2 separate regions of the Homo sapiens genome follow, and region 2 is linked to region 1. The links come from fine-mapping of genetic effects on gene expression. A gene starts in region 1. The other region holds a variant in brackets. All regions are shown on one strand. Distances are from middle to middle.

The links. PIP is the estimated chance that this variant, and not a neighbour inherited with it, causes the effect.
Region 2: its variant is fine-mapped to the expression of LEF1 in esophagus muscle (GTEx, PIP 0.99).

What each region holds. Positions count from the first base shown.
Region 1 is chr4:108,165,281-108,173,969 of GRCh38, forward strand. It overlaps LEF1 (lymphoid enhancer binding factor 1), which reads right to left and starts at 3,652. Exons shown (of 12, transcript NM_016269.5): 1 at 2,275-3,652. The coding sequence starts at 2,487. It overlaps LOC124900752, which reads left to right and starts at 2,659. Exons shown (of 2, transcript XM_047416528.1): 1 at 2,659-3,622; 2 at 3,830-5,690. The coding sequence starts at 3,220. The coding sequence ends at 4,416. It overlaps LEF1-AS1 (LEF1 antisense RNA 1), which reads left to right and starts at 2,245. Exons shown (of 3, transcript NR_029374.1): 1 at 2,245-2,553; 2 at 8,139-8,239. RefSeq lists silencers at 1,606-1,845, 3,602-3,651, 7,438-7,687, 7,928-8,117 and enhancers at 1,723-2,224, 3,252-3,341, 5,412-6,042.
Region 2 is chr4:107,214,359-107,223,047 of GRCh38, forward strand. No RefSeq gene overlaps it. Among named protein-coding and RNA genes, the nearest start is that of DKK2, 180 kb to the left of the region's middle. The variant C/CT (reference allele first, on the strand shown) is at 5,291.

The DNA of each region.
Region 1 (8,689 bases):
TTTTATACTCTGAGAGACATACGCTAGTGTTTAGTACTGCATAATCCTTTTCTTGTCAACATGTATTTTTGAGTGATTATTATCCACCCGGGACCAAAAACGTATAAATAATAACAAAACCAATAAAAATATAGTTAAATTTGGGAATGATCCACATGCTGTTCTGACTGCTGTTTATTAAACCATATCAAGGCTCCTTGGATGCCTAATATTACAGGAGTAGGAGTTAATGGGGTTGATGGTTTCGATAGCCTCTTCAACCACTGTTCACTTCAATCAGATCTGATTAAAAGAAGGCTGAAATATCATTTTGCAACTGAAAATGGCATTTAAACATAAACAAGCCAACCACTCAGATGCGGTCTTAAGGCAACTGCCCTGAGCGCAGTTACAGCAGAAGCTCCACTCGAGCTTATAACCTACTATGGCTGGCTGAGTGCAGGCTTACAAAAGTAGAACGATTCTGTGGTTAAAGGGAGGAAAATTAGAGAGTCAGGTTATAGACATCTAAAAGGTAGCCCAGTTGATATCAGTTTTGGTAATCACCATCCACCCAGACAGCCTCAAACACGTGCAAATCAGTGGTATTACTCCTTCACCCTCAGGCCTCCTCATGCCCACTTAACACCCGAGTGCTCTCGGATTCGAACGCAGTGTCCTTCACCCGGACCAGAAAATTGTGGAGAATATGAAGTGGGTGGCAAAATTATTTATGGACTAAGGCAGGACTAGCAAAATGGGTAGAAAGAGAGGCTGCTCTACAAATAGGAGAGTTTGGCAAAAAGCCTGTGTTTTGGATGTTATTCGGTTCTCTGGACGTGTGTCCTCCCTTTGACCTCCTTTTCCCAGCACACAGTAGTCACAAATCTTTTACGCGGGGTTAGGTGCACCCTACCCCCGCCCCCAGCCCGCTCAAACTGGATTCAACGGGTAAAGAACACCATTCTGTTCTCTGAACGCAGGCCCCCAGCCTTTCAAAATTCGTACTCACCTCTGCCATTGGGATAGAGAAGGCAGATCTGAGGTGTTCTTAAACGCGCTGTTTAAAACCCAAAATGTCCCCGCCCTCAAAACCACACACTTTCTTTTTGGGGGTAGAAAGATGCCATTTAAGGAAAAAAAGGTATATCCTCCAAGTTTCTTTGGAGGGAAAAGGCGTTGGTTAAATCATTCGGGTGTCAGGACTTTTCTACCGGATTTCCTCCAGAGGGTTTCCCAGTTGTGGAACAAGGGTGACCAGTGGAGTGTCGGGTATCAGGGTCCATCCGCCCCCTAGACCAGCTCTGGACTAGGCTTCAAACAGCCCTCCAGCGCGGCCCTGCTCCGCGCTTTCTCTAGCCAGCACCCACGTGTCTCTATTTACTCTACTCAGGTTACCAGCTCTATCGCCCGCAGCGGGCCAGAAGACCCGATAAAGCGCCTTCCACCCTGCAGGACTAGTGCCCGGCTTCCGCTGCTTCTCCGCCTTTCTTCTGCGTAGATTTAAGGCCTGATCCGGTCCCAAACCCCAAATAAAAGTTGTGGGTTTGTTTCCAAGTGATGGCGGTTGGAGAAAACTAGAGTTGGGGGCGGTACAGCCAGGGTGTACCCTTGCGGTGGGTCGGCTCGGCGCACCCACAGCTCCCAGCTGCTAGCCCAGGCGCTGGGGCCGCAGGGACTGAACCCCGCACCGCCCCCGCAGCCCGGGTGCGCGCCCCATCGGCCGGCCTGCTCCCCGCGGCCCGGCTCACCGGTGGTAGGGACGGCCCCGCCTGCCCCAGCCCACGCCCGCCTCCCCTTCCTCCCGCCTGTGGCTCTGCTCGTCTCCACCTAAGCCTTTGGTGGTTTAACGCACTTTTGCAGAGACATCTACCAAGAGATAGCGTGTGCACTTTGTTTTCCGTCCCACGGAAGAATTTATCAGTAGCGTTATTCAGCCCTACTCGCTTTAAAGCACGGCACCCCTCAGCCCAACAAAAAGACCGAAGGCGAAACATTGTGGGTTCCTGCCCGCGAACCAACCGTTCAGCCACCGAACCCCCTAAACTGATCCATTTGGAATAAGTTACCCTGCCCCTCTACCTCCCATCCTACACACACACACACACACACACACACACACACACACACACACACTGCGGACCGGGGGCCCAGCTACGCACACACCCCAAAACAAACGAGGGATCTACTCGGGACCCTCAGCCGGGCGGCCGGGCGCCTTCGTTCCCTTCCTCCCTCTCTGAGTTTCCCAGGGACCCGCCACGCCTCTCGGAACTGGGGCAGCGGCCCGCTCACCTCGTGTCCGTTGCTGGCCGGGATGATTTCAGACTCGTTCACCAAGGAAGACTTGATGTCAGCTAAATCGCCTTCCTCTTCGGGATGACTGATCTCGGCGAAGATCTTTTCCTTCTGAGGATCGCCCTCGTCCTTGAAGGGGATCATCTCGTCCGTGGCGCAGAGTTCCGGGTCCCCCCCGCCGCCGCCACCTCCTCCGGAGAGTTGGGGCATCCCGGCGGCTCTGTAATCTCCGCTCCGCTGTGGGAGCACCCGCGCAACAGCAGGAAAGACAGAGGGGTAACTCAAGGGTGGGGGAGGAAAGGAGAGTTGGAAGGGTTCGTGCAGCAGGACAGCGGGCGGAAGCGGGGCGGGCGAGCGCGGGGCCGCCGGCCGGCAGCCGGAGCAGCTGCCGCGGCGCCCGAATCCCGGCGGCCGCCGCGCTTTCCCGCTTCGCGGAGACCGACGCAGGCGCCCGCCCCCGAGGCCGAAGGGCACTGGGCGGCGAGGGCTGCGGTAGCTGGCGACTCCGGGGGCGTCTGCGCGGCGCGCGCTAGACGAGGCTGCCCCGGCGGCCACCCCGCGACCCCGCGTCGCCGGGATTTGCGCGCGGAGAACGCCGGTTCTGGAGGGAGCACGCCTCCCCAAAGTGCAGAGGAGGGTCCGGCGGCGCGTCTCCGCGGAAACCCTCTCCACTGTAGTTACCCCGGATGCCGACTTAGTAGTTTGTTTTCCGAGAAAAGAGAGGGGATCTGGGCAGAAGGGCCCCGTTTGCCCCAAAAGAAGGTGCAAGGATCAGAAGATAACGAAACGTCCACTTCCTGAAGGGTGGGAAAAAAAGAAAAAGAAAAAGGAGCCACCCACGCTGGAGATGTCCGTTTTAGATCTTCTTATTTTCTTCCCTTTCGCTTCGGTTTTTCTTCTCGAGGCTCATTTAATCTGCTAGAGAAGGAGGAGGAGCAGAAGATGGGGGCCGAGGAGGAGGGGAAGAGAAAGAGAAGTTTGCCAAGAATAAAGTTTTTGCCGGCAAGCGCGGGGACTCCGCAGTGGAGGGCACTGCGGAGTCTCGGGGAGTCACAGCGGGGGCCTCGGGCCCAAATGCCTCTGCCCGGAGCTCGAGCCGACACACACACTCAGTCCGACCCCTCTTTGTTCCCGGCTCGAGTTTCTCAGCCTGGCTCGCCGGCTCGCCGCTCTGCACGCCTCCGCCGGCCAGCTCTGTCAAAGCAAAGAGCTGCGCCCCTTGAGTTCGCCCGGCCGAGGGGAGGGGACGCCCCGAGCTTGGCCGCGTGCGAGGCTCCGGGCGCGTCCTGGTTCCTCGGCCCGAGAGCGCGCAGCCCGGGTCCCTCCTCCGCGCCCTGCCCCGCAGGTGAGCGGCTGCGCCTCCCCACTGCTTCTCCTCCTCCCGCGCCTCGCCGGCGCTGAAAAGCTACCCACTTGCGTCGCTTCTCCTCCCTCTCCCCTCCCCCGCCTCTAGCTCTCCTTGGCTGCCCGCTGGAGGGGAGGCGGGGGGTGAGGGGGAGTCGGCGAGAAGGAGGTGGTGATTGAGGGCTTTTTTTTCTTTTTCTTTTCCCAGATCCTGTAGGACGAGTCTTGGTTTTGGGGTGTGTGAGTGTGGTGTGTGCGCGCGCGCCTGGAGGGAAGGATCAGGCAACTTGGCGAGAGAAGGAAGGACCGGGCGCTGCTTATAACCCACCGAAAGGCACGCTTTGCCCGCGTGAAACTGACAAGAAACATTGCCGCAGTGGCTTGACTTCATCATCTAAGTATCTATTTACTTGGCCCCCACCCACCCACTCCTTTTCCTCTGCCAGTCTCTCCCCTACCTCCTTGACGCCTCCCACTCTCCCTCCCTGGCTCTGGCAGAGGGAGGAAGATGAAAGAGAAAGCCGCTGCCGCTGTGATGGACACCACATTGATAGATGCTCTGACAGTGGGGAGAGGCGGGAATCTGGGACTGAGAAAAAAAGGAAAAGGGGAAAATATAACAGACATTGCTCAACTATTAAGAGAGAACAGAAGGACAAGGAAAAGAGAGTTGTAGCTTTCCCGAATATAATATCACACACACGCTCTTTGGAGACAAGGGAACACACTAGTGAAAATAAAATCTCTAGGCTTACGGAGAAAAAATATGACGAGGAAGAAGGAACTGAAGACTAGATTTTAATTATTGCTTTTTAAACAATATATCTTTCATTCTGTTCTCACCACGGGATGTACGGAGAGTTGTGCTAGGTCTCCAGTGGGTTTTCAGAGACACACACCGCAGTGTGTGGGAACCTCATCGAGAATGAAAAGATAATCCAAGAAGGGGGAAGAGAAGGCAAAAGGACTCAGGAGAGCAAAGCCAGAAGAGGGAGGGAGGACGGGGTAGTCCCTGGCACCTTGGACTGCGAACTGAAAGGGACCCTTGAAGACACCAATCCGAATACAACCTCAAAAATTCCCCAGTCTCCACTGTCTCTTTGATGAATTTTGTACAAAGACAGGAGTTTTCAGGAGATACTTTGTGAAAGTTACAGCAGAAGGGAAGCTGAAGTTTGAAAACACATTACATTTTGTCCCTTGGTTCTCAAACCCCCTCAGTTAAAAATCTAGGCAAAATTATTATATCCAATACAGTAACCATCTGTAAAACTTCAGAACAGTAAACAAAGGACATAAAGAAATGTATCTTCATCTCCCTTAAATCGAAAACAAGCAAAACACTACAGAATCAGATTTTGCTCCATTATATAGGAATTGTCTGGCAAAGATCCCTCTTTTTTTCCTAAAGGTGAAATTTCAGGCTGCTGAACATTGAATGGGTAAAGATTTTTACAATGCTGTATCTAAGTGAGCACTAATGACTTCACCTACTAATAACGACTACTTCTTGGGAATAAGAATTTACTAGGAAGCAATTTTTAAAACTTTACAAAGGATCCAATTGGTCCCTACAACATGGCCAGTAGTCACATGTAAATTCTATCTGGAAGATTGGGGTGAAATTAAGGGGTTGGTGAAGGAATCCAGGAAAATTAAAACATTAAATCCATTTTTAATAGCTGACAATGCTATGCCTCAAGAGAAGAAAAAGAGTATATTCTGCTACAGTGTGTGAGAAACCCAATTTTTGTTTTTGGATGATGGTGGTATGTCACTTCCCTTAAAGTTAGGCACCAGTGTGAGTAGTGTCCCAGAGAGGTGAACGTGTAGCTGTGTCAGACATTTATAGCCCCATTCTTAAAAGACACATGGGAAAACAGTCAAAAGTCCTCCCATAACTGCACCAATTTGACCAATAGGAAAACAAGTGGAAAATGCAGTTTCACCAAAGCAGAGTAGAGGTTCCTTTTCATCAAACCCTCAGGAGGGGGAGGGGAGAACACAGAATGGCCAGGGGGTACTTTCTGGAAGCCGAAGAGAGATTAAATGATGACTCTTACATCCCCCCCGCTGTTTAAGTGCTGAAACTAATTCAGATCCCACTTTCTCCTTCATGTTAACTCTGGATTCCCCGAGTAATTTGGAGCCTATGCTCCAGGTTTCCTGAAGATTAGAAGCTCAAGAAGATGGGAATTTTTAGAACAATAACTAGGGGAAACTGTTTACTTGAAGGGCCAAGGGTAGGGGGCTGCGTTTGGTATTTTACTGAGACCCCGTCCATTGAAAACATTGTTTCTAACGAAATCACCCAGCACCTTGCTCTATTTGCGTGGCTGTTTTCCTTACAGTGGTGTAACTTGTGTTAGCTGATTGTCTTTAGGATTGTTGTAAATCTTCTGATGAGCAGCACTTAGAAGGGGCTTTAGTAAAAACCATGCGCCCCAAATTTCTAAAGCTTCGTTTGGGAGAGAGGTTGACATTTGCACATGAAGTCTGTCTTTTGGAAACAGCAGGAGGACGCAGGAGGGGCGAAGTAACCCCGGGAAGACGTTCTTCCCCCTCCCTTACGGATTCAGTGTAGTTCCTGGCATAAGCAATTCTGTCACCGGGCGGTCTTTTCTAATTCGTGTGGGGGCTGATATTAACATAAGCAGCCGCCTCTTCGGGTGCGAGTGGGATCCCAGGTCCGGGATGTGGTGGGTGCGGTGCGGGAGAGGCACCCGCCGCCCCCTTCACTCGGATGTTAGAGGCAAGTTGTTCGTGTGAACTCGAGCGAACGACTGGAGGTTGGCTGTTGTAGGTTCACTCCTTCAGGATGTGGGTTTCAGGGGGCGTTTTGATGTGATTTAATTCCGACCGTGAAAACAATTGCTAGGGGCTGGCTGGATTGCTGTTGGTTTTTCCCCTCCTGGTGGCTTTGCTTGGTTTGGGTTTAGTTTGGGAACAAACTTGTTTTATATCAACACTTCCTTCTACATCGGGCGCCGTCGCCTCAACTGCGCGTGGGGGGCGAGGCGCCCACCCCGCACAAGAACAGAGGAGCGGGGGAGAAGAGACGGCCTCGCTGCTCACTGGGTAAGCGGAGCCCAGCCCCGCTCGGGAGCGGGCAGGAGAGACAGGGTAGTGACCCCCACTCACACCAGAAAACCCCTCCCCCCGGCGATTTTGCTGCCAACTCGAGTCGGCTACAGACAGTCCAGTGAGTCCTTAATTACAAGGACGAGAGAAAAGCACGGTGCCCCTCGAGTCCTCTCCGCCCCCTCGGTCCTAACCCCCGCCCAGGCTCCAGGTCTTCCCCTTTGTGTGGCCTGGACTCTCTCCCAGCTACGACTTTGGTGGGATCCAAAAGGAAGGAGGTGGCGGGGCCTACGGAAGAGGATACCCAGGAGCCAGGGAGAAGGGCTAGAAAACGAATAATGTGACTCCAGAGGCGGAACCCCGACCCCCTCTATTTCCCACCCCGGCTTCACCCGGAGACGAAAGCTGTGGGCATCTTCAGTTTAACGGACTTCGCGGAAAAGGAGAGAAGGGGGGCGAGGGAAATGGCAGTTTGTGTCCCAGGGGTTCTTCCCCTTCTTCTTGCCGCCTCCTAAAGACAAACAAACTCAACCCCCCACCCTCCGGGGTATCAGGGAACTCGTGGGACCGTGAAAAAGTCGTTCCCAAATCCGGCCGCCTGCGGACGTCGGACTTCCGCGGGGCCGGCGCCCGTTGGCGTCTGTAGCTCGGCGCAGCCACGCGGGGCTCCAGCGAGCGGGGTCCGCCACCCCTCGCGCCCTCCTGCGGCTTTCCCAGCGCTGGGCCAGTGCAGGCCGAGCCCTGCGTCCCTGCCTCGCTGGGTGGGGGTCCGGGGCGCGGCTGTCCACAGGGCCGCCTCCTCCTGCGGCCCGCGGGGAAGGGGCGCATCCCACCCCGCTCTGCAGGCCGCCCTTCTGCCAGCTGGGAGGCGAGGGCACACGTCCTAAGGCTGCCCAAGGGGGAGAGGAATCGCGCCGGTAGGAGAGCGCACGGGAACCAGGAACGCAAGGCGGGCACAGGGGAGCCGAAGGAGCCAGACAGGGCCCGGCCACGCGCCCTCCTCGCTCGGCTGCGCTCCGTGACGGGAACCCAGGCTCCCACGCACGGGGAATGCCTAGAACGGAGCTAGAATGGAGGTGGGAGCTGGAGTCATTTTGCGGGCCACAGGACTGCTCATTTCGTGGGCAGGACGTGACATTCTTGTCCCTCCTTTCTGAAAAACTTTTCTCAGGCGCCTGAACTTGGCATGGGGACCGGCCTCGAAAAGCCGGCGGGTAGCACGGCCGCGGTATCCAACCCTTCGCCCTCCTTCCCACCGGCCCTCCGCGTCCCTCGGCCCGCCCCCCGGGTCGGGGACGCGCGCGGAAAGGCCGCTCGCGCGCTCGAGCCGTGCCTTATATCGGCTGAGGGAGGCGCCTGCGCACGGCCCCGCGCGGCGGCGCGGCCTTTGAAGTCGCGGCGGCTGCCGCTTTCATCCTTTCTTTTTTCCCTCGCAGGCCCCTTTGTGTGACTAAATTTGGCAAGAATATGGATCTGAGCCAGTCTTTCCACGTGTGCTCCCAGCTCCCAGCTGAGAAGGCCAAGGGTTCTCTTCCGGGTAAGGAGACAGGGAGAAAGATCAAAGAGTTTGGGGAGCTGGATCTGAAATGTGAATTGAAAATAAAAATCAAGCCTGGACACATTCCAGTTTCTAAAGCAAAACCAACCCTCAGCAGAGGCCGGCTCTCTATATAGCTCTCTTTCTTTCTCTCTCTGCTCCCTTTGACTCTTTTCTGTGACCATTCTTGAGCACATGGTATAAAATAAAGAGAACATAGGGAAACAGTTTCTCTATATTTCGTTTTGGAGTAATTTTATTAGGGAAAATATCTTGTTCATAATTACCGGTATGTGAAGCCGAATTTCCTTAGCCGTAAATACTGTCTTATTTCAGCATGCTTCGCACTTTCTTCTGCGGCCACATTTGGGAAGAGAACGTTGACACAACACGTGTGGATATGTTCGTTGTGTATAGTGGTCCTTTTTTTCTACACATGATATGGTGCAC
Region 2 (8,689 bases), 950 kb before region 1:
AGTACTCTGTCCCTATTTCTTCTTGAGAGAAAGCTGTATACGTTCAGAAGAATACGAAAACTTAGAATAGCACTGCATGTTTGTAGAATGACAGAATTAAGAACCAGAAAAAATAAAAATATTGAAACCACCAACAATGACTTTTGGATGAAGGTAGGTTTTGAGCCAGATTCGAAAGGTTCCTAAGTGCATCCGTTGGCAGCATGGAGTGGGCAGAGAGAGAAACAGACCAGGAGATGCTTTCCACAGCCATCTGGGCTTCTCCCTCTTCACATCCATCACACTTTATTGAAGTTGTTAAAAATCTGGCTACCTGCAAAACCATAAACTCTATGAGGACAGATACAATGATGAAGTTATTTGCTTTGATAATACTAGCCGAACACCTTAATGTTTGCTGACTAAATAGGGGTACAAATATTTACTTTGCTATAAAAGTCCTCTGCACACTAAGCATGTAATGGAATTTCATGGTTGGCTATCTGCTCTCTTTGCCATATTTAAGTTGCCTCCTCCACCATCACCAAACCAATCCCTGGCTCTGAGTCTCTAAGTCTCTAATTCCAGATGATTTGGCCCGTAGATCTGAGGCTGAAACATCTTACCCAGTGATTACTGATCACCTTTGTCTACTAAACTACTCAGCTTAGCACTTAAAATATTTCATTCATTATTCCTTCCTTACCTAAACCACCCACATATTTCTCTTTCCAAAATAATCCTTATGTTTCCATTTTATTCCTGCTTTCTAAATAAAAATTTGATGATGACGATGATGGCCAGGGACATTTCTAAGCACTTTATAGATACTGTCTTGTTTAATCCTCACAACAGTGCTATGGAAAAGGTGGTGTTACTATCTTCAGGTTAAGATGAGGAAACTGAGACAGAGAAGGCTTAATTAATATGTCCGGTCAAGCTGCTAGGAAGAAGTGGGCACCACTTGAATTTGAACCCAAGCATCCTGGCTCCAAAGATCATGCTCTTCAATACTATGGTATGCCTTTCTCCAAGGCACCTGAATGAGTGTTGACTAACTTTGAGGTCATCATGAAAGGGCCCTTTCATCTCTAGTATTTGCTTTTGCTATTTGTCAGCCTTTGATGCTCCCTTGATATCTGTCTAGAAGAAGACTTTCCAACACAGCCTGGCCCAGAATTTGGACTGAATTTTCCAGAGCTTTGACTGTGGTCCATTCTTAATGAGCTCCCAAGCAACTACCTCAAGGGAGAATGAAAATGTAACTTGGACCTTACCTGAATGACATTATTTTACTTATTTCTCACTCCCCAAAAGCAATCTGTCAGGAATTCAGAAAATTGTGCCAATTGCCAAGAGGGATGCTAAGATTGGACGGAAATAGACCTTGAAATTAAGACGCTTACTACGCGGAGAAAAGACTTGAATATAATGAGCAAAACACACTGCAGAAGTTGATGGATAACTTTTAACATAAGAAGGATCAGAACCAAGACTATCTCCTAGAATCCTTGGAGGCTTTCCCACTCACATAAAAAAATAGGGACTGAAATTTGGCAAAGGATTGTAATCTATCTACTGTGTGACCTGCCCAACCCCTAAACTTCTTTCAAGGCTACTTAAAGAGTTTCTCTTCTAAAAAGTTACCAGTTACCAATCCTATGCCCACTATAGTTTGTATCTTATTCTGAATTTCCTGAGTATTCATGGCTTGAGACTGACCCACCCAATTACAAACATAATCAAATATTAGCTTATAATTATATTTTAGATGGTTAAAGCATAAGTTCTATCATCCTAAGAAAAATCTTAAACACTACAGAAACAACTACCATAAAACTATCTCAAAGTTCTTGAAATTCTCACTACAGTGCAGAGCAGGCATCGGTATTCAATAAACAATAAATGACTGAACAACAAATAAGTGAATAAAGGAGCATTTCTGCTTTGATTTTTACATAATGACCTGGAGCTTAAGAGGAAAGTGAGAGAGAGAACTTAGAATAGAAGGCATGTTGGCTTCTGATTTTATTAAAATGTTTCATCAGATAGAAGATGTGGTTCTCCCAAAATAAAGACCAGGAGCACAGGAAAACAGCACTGTGTCTTGGCAAGAGAAAAAAAAAAATAACACCCCTCCCAACCCAACACACAATGCCCCTACATGCTCATGTATTTGGAGGTAATAGTCAATTTACTGGCACACAATGCAAGTCCTTTCTGGAAATGATTACTCTCAAAGATCCACTTTTAGTCCAATGTGTTACAAAATGAGAGGGAGGCCATCCAATTCTTACTTTCCCTTTGTGATGAACTGTTAAAAAGTGATACAAGAGGATAAAAGATGAGATGGGAAGGGAAAGAGACAGAAGAGTAGGCTGTAGGAGACCAAATAAAAAGTTCAAAGTGGCAAGCACTGCAAAGTAACACTTCATCATTCCCAATTTTACTCCTGGTTGTCTATCTGGAGTGTTGTCATTACCTATGAGAGACCAGCTCCAAAAAGTTCAGTGTGTTCCTGTAAAATCTTTGGACCTAGACTCAAGTTCAAGAATGCACAAATGATGCCTCCAAGCATTATGATATGCTTGCAAAGTTCTACTGACCTATCCTGATGAAAATATCAACTGACCTTGAAAGTTTACCAGGTCTCAGTGAGCAGGTCTGGGGAGTTAAGAAGAAAGACACCATAGTGCAAAAGAATGTGGAGTATGCAAAGGGCAGAAGCTGACGGCTTATGAACTGCACATTATTTGAGGTGGCTCTTTCTAAAAAGAATTCTAGGACATCCCTATCCACTGTTGCCATTATCCACTTAATTATGTAGAGTCACCATAAAAATTTAAGTATTTTGTGGAGAATGGGCACCTCTCCATCTGTGAATGCTACCAAAGGTAGAGCCATTAGTTCAGCAAGTAAGCCCAGCCTACTCACTCTGAGACTTCATTATTATTGGTATTGCTGCAGGACCCATCTCCTGGAACTTTCCACTTTCTCCTGGGTTTATTTGCTTCACTTCACCCTTCAAAATTCCCAGGAACATTTGTGTCGTATGAACTCCCAGTCAGTTTATAGATTATCTTTCCCTTGACCTGGTACCTAAACCCCAGGCTTTTATATTTAATCAGCTATTGAATATTAATTTTGTTTTTTGTTAGAGATCTTAAACATAAGATGACCAAAATGTAAATCTTGATTTCAGCTCACTCCTGGAAACCCATTTCTTCTCCATTGTCTACGTCTCAGTAAATGGCAGAAACACTCACCAAATTGATAAAGGCTAAAACCTATGAGCCATTTTTAATTTCTCTTGTTCTTACCTCTCACATTCCATCTGCTAGTTCTGTGACTATACCTGTTAATACTGTATATCCTAACTTTTCCTTCTTTTCTCTATCCACACTACTACAGTCTTAGTCCAGCCACTATCATCTCTCACTTGCATGATGACAAAAACTTATTAACTCATCTTTCAGCTAATATCATGTTGAAAAGCCAATCAGACTTATTAGCTTGGTGGTCAAAATAAAACCAAAGTAAATTATTATATTTACTTGTAAAATAATTGTATATATAATAATACAATCAGCCTCCAGGTATAGGAAACAATGATTATGTAAAGGCAACTGTAATACTCTATATTTTATTAAATTTTACAATGATTTCATTATCCAAGTGAGACTTTAACTTGTTACTGGTTAACATTGAATGTGTATCATGCCAACTCCCAAGTAACCACCATGATCTACCACCTAAGCAACTGCAAATAGCCTCCTAACTGGTCTCCAAATTTCTGTTTTTGCTCCACTGAACTCCATTATCCACAAAGCTATTAGAGTGAAGTTTTTAAGGAGCAGATCAGTATTTATGAGTCTTGCATTTAAAATCCAGTGTGGCAGATATCTCCTTATTCTCTGTTTTCTTTAAAATAATGATCTCCTCCAGCAAGTTTTTTTTTTTTTTTTTTTTTTTTTGAGACGCTCACTCTGACGCCCAGGCTGGAGTGCAGTGGCACAATCCCAGCTCACTGCAAGCTCTGCCTCCTGGGTTCACACCATTCTCCTGCCTCAGCCTCCCAAGTAGCTGGGACTACAGGCGACCACCACCACGCCCGGCTAATTTTTTGTATTTTTAGTAGAGACGGGGCTTCACCACGTTAGCCAGGATGATCTCGATCTCCTGACCTCATGATCCGCCTGCCACGGCCTCCCAAAGTGCTGGGATTAGAGGCATGAGCCACCGCGCTCAGCCTCCTCCAGCAAGTTTTAAGAGTACGTGACTGCCTCTTTTGTTCTAATGAGGTAAAGCCACACAACTAAGTTTGGGCTATGGATATGAGCAGAACTTATATGTGTGCAACTTCCAAGTGATCTCTAAATGCAAAGCCACTAATTCCAAACTCCCTTTTTCCTCCCTTCTATGGGGTGAAATACAGATATGATGGTGATGAACAAGAAGAGATCTTGCTTGTCTTATTCTCATCTGAAAAATAATGACACTTAGTAATCACTCAAGTATTTTTTAAGTGAATGAAAGATGGAGGAACAGTGTAAGATAACCTACACATCCTCTTGGTACAAAGAGCTATTAGATGTCTGATAGTAAACAATATAGTATGTCTACTAGGAAGCATTCTGCAAAAATTATGAAAAAGAGAAAAGGCAATCTATTCCAACTTAATAACAAAAGGTCATAACTGATCTTCTAGTAATTATTAAACACATAAAAATCAATAGCCAGAAACTTTAAGTCAATGATCCATGCCTAGATGTGACACAAAAGTATGATCTTGTGTCCAAGGTCAAGAATAAAGGACAATTGAATCAAGGATGCTTAGTCAAATGAGAATCCATATTTATAACTCAACAAAATCAAAGAGAGAGGAAAGATCAAAATAATTTAACATATTTGTAGGGCATTAATGAGCTCAAGTACATTGCCTAGAGTAACAAAGAAGAAAGACTATTTTATTTTGTCTTAATCTTTTAAGAAAAGAGGGAATGTATTGTCTTACCTAGTTGCACTGTTAGAAGATTGTCAGAATTCAGGCAAAAGTGGGCCCAAAAGTTAAAATGATGTCATCAGGTTTTCTGTTTTATTATTTTTTTTTATTTTGCACTAAATTTAGAATTATAGAAAATGTATCAAGACTTGTAAAAGAGTCCTGTATACCACTCATGAAGCTTCCCCTTTTGTTAACATTTTACATAAACATAGGACAATTATCAAAACTGGGAAATTAACACTGATATAATTCTATTAACTGAACTAGAGACCTTATTCTACTTTCACCAGTTTGTTCACTAATGTT[C/CT]TTTTTTTTCATTTCAGGATTCCACCAGGATCCTACCTTGTATTTTGTTGTAATACCCCTCAGTCTCCTCTGATCCATAACAGCTCCTCAATTTTTCTATCTTTCTTGATATAGATACTTTGCAGATTACTGATTAGTTATTTTGTAGAATGTCTCTCGGTTTGGGTTTCTCTGGTTTTTGTGTCAACATTAGAAGGAAGTTCTGCATTGCTGGCAATAATACCACAGAAATGATGTCATTTCTTTCTCAAGGAATCTTATCAAGGGGTTAATGGTACATATATGTCTCATTACACTTGACTAATGTGGTATATGCTGGCTTTCTCCACTGTAAATTTATTATTTTTCCCTATATAGATAAAACTTTGAAGGAGATCATTTAAGACTATGCAAATTCCTTTTTCTCCCCCAAACTTCTGCCCACTAATTTTAGTGAGATAGAGAATTTTAAGTAGAAAAAAGTCCTGTTTTAGTAGTGCTACAAGAAAAATTCTAATCTGAAGTTGCTTGAAAAAATGTTTTAAGAAATTCATAGGTATTCTAAAATATCATTTAAAAATTATAGCAGTGTTTAACTATTGCATTTGCTTTAAAGGCTTTCTACTAAGGGTCCTTATACTTTTCAAGGTCATGGAGCCTCTTGAGAATCTGGTGAAAGACAAAAGTTCATTCTTCCTAGAAAAATGCAAATTGCATATGTTGAGAATTTAGGGACTTCATCAACCACCAAAGCTCATCCTTGGATTCCTGAAGTGTCTCCAGGCAAAGCACCCCTTTATTAATAACAAAGAATATCTGTAAGTCAATTTGCTTTTCATAGGTCTATCTATATGCCCATCATTGATGATGTTCTTTCCTTAGTTTGTTATGGAAGGAAGGAAGGAAGGAAGGAAAGAAGGAAGGAAGGAAGGAAAGAAGGGAGAGTGGGGAAGGAGGGAGGGAGGGAAGGTAGAAGTAAGGAAAGAGAAGGAAAAAGTCATATTATCCCATGTCCCCATTACTTCTCTTACCCAGAATAGAAAAATGTATTGGACCAAAGTTGGCCAATTCCACTTAATTTTTTTTCCTAGACTGCTTTTCAAATTGGATCTTGAGTGTACTAAAAACTATTCATTTTGCCCCATTCAGCTTTCTTTCCATCCAGCTAATTCCCCCAGTGAGCACGTTGTTCCCCAAAAGCCTTCAGGTTTCTTTTAAATCTATGTTCACAGAACTTGTGCATAAGAACAAGAATTGTATTCTTCTAATTAAAAAGTAGAAAATAACTAGGATGTTTCGACAACTGCTTTTAAAAATAAATTCTTACCAGGATCCTCAGGTCTCTGTGACCACTTCCCACATATTTTATTAAAAGCCTAAAAACAGAAAGAATTGCTAGCATTTGAGGGGTTTTTTTGTTTCTCTGAAACAGTTTATCTTCTGAAGCAACTGACCCCATCTCATGAAATGTTTGCAGCAAATATGTACTATGTTTAGTTAGTGTTGTGAAATTTCTGTTTTTGCAATATGTTGGGATGCTGAGTGTTAGTCAAATGGATTTTATTTGGAAATTAAAAGCAAATTTCATAGGCTACTTGCTTTGCAGCTGAAGAATCTGGGTCAGTCAGTCAGAAAAACATGAGCTTTTTTTCCCATGGCTTTGAGGTAAGCACTGTGGGTTTCCTAGAAGGATTCTGCCCCTACCACCTAAGAGAGTTCTGGGTGTTTGTTACAACCATGTCTTTATCCTAAGGGGTCTTGGGCTTAACCATTGTTCTAGAAAATCTTGAGGCAAATCTACTACTTTAATCTTTTAAATAGTATAATTTGGAAAGACTCTTTCAAGCAAATCTAATTCAAATGAGTCCATCTGCTAAGCCCAAAATATGAGTTTTTCATAAAATGCAGATGCAATAACAGACTCAAAGCATAAGAGACTTTTATACAACCCATTAAGCAATAGTCAACCCCTTCCTTTTGTAAAAAGAGAAATGAAATGTATCATCTTCTAACCAATACAATAAGTCCTACTAGTTTAAGCTTTGATGTTACCATATGAAGCATTCTTTCTCTATTATGTTCAAAATCGTGGAGAACATTCTGATAATAAGACCTATCTTTATGACCTAATTGATTTCCTGTGTTAATGCTAAGGAAATAATGAAGGAAACTTTTGAAGTTTAAGCTCCCCATTAATCCATGGGACATTTTAATTCATTGAATTTCTTTATAAGAAACACAAAAACAAATCTTCTCCAAGAAATGTAGCAAAGCAATGTCCTTAAAAGGAAAGTCTAACATCTGATTTAGTGATAGGAGTTTGGACATGCACAGCTAGATGATGTAGTACCTATTTCTCTACTCAGTAATTACGCTAACTATTCTATTAATTTAAATTACTTGATAGTTATGGGCACATGAACTACACATACCTTCAGCCACTTGCTTTCTGAGTTGGTTTTTCAGTGTCCTGAGGAAATTATTACTCTTGAGAAAAAAGAAGAAAATAAAATCTAGGCTCCAATATCACCCCCATTTCAAAGTCACATAGATTTGTTTTGACTCACACTTAGCATCTTACTTTTCAAATTAAACAACTATTTATTTTCATCATGAGAGATGAAAATTTTTAAAATTAGAAAACTTTCAGATAATAGATGAAAGCACATGTGATTCCCAGCACTAGCACTAAGGGCAGAGCACCTGCTGTAATTCTGTACTGAAGACTACAATTCTGAGATGGTTTAGCAGCATCATTTTTTTTTTTGTTTTTTGGGGTTTTTACTTTTGTCTTTAAAATGATATCAGACAACATATCACATGCCTGAGTTTAGAGCTGGGTTTTAGGAGATTCTGCTCTCAAAGCAGAACAAAAGAAAAAACTATTAAATTGCAATGAACTTTTGGCTCTGTGGTCTAGTTTAATCGGGATTGGAAAGAGAATTTAAAATGGTGTGTTTCTATTCGTCAGCAGCAAGCCATTAAAACTATATTTAAAGAGAAAACACAATGAATCTTCTATATTAATCTTATATGCAGTTACCTTGCTAAATTCCCATGTTGTGTCTAATAATGTGAAGGTTTACTCTTTGGGTTTTCTATAGAAATCACATAATCTACAAATAATCTGTAGATAATCACAATTTTGTTTCTTCCTTTCCAATCCTTATATCTCTGATTGCCTCATTATACCGTATAGGACTTCATGTACAATTATGAACAAAAGTGGTAATAAGTTTTTTCCTTGTGCCATTCCTGATTTCAAAGAGAATGCTTCCAATGTTTGCTCATTTAAGATAATGTTAACTTTTGGATTATTTTATAGATGCTTTTAGTCAGGTTAAGAACTATCCTTTCTCATTTCTAATTGAAGAAGAGTTTTTAAAATCATAAGTGGGTTTTAAGTTTGATGAAAGACTT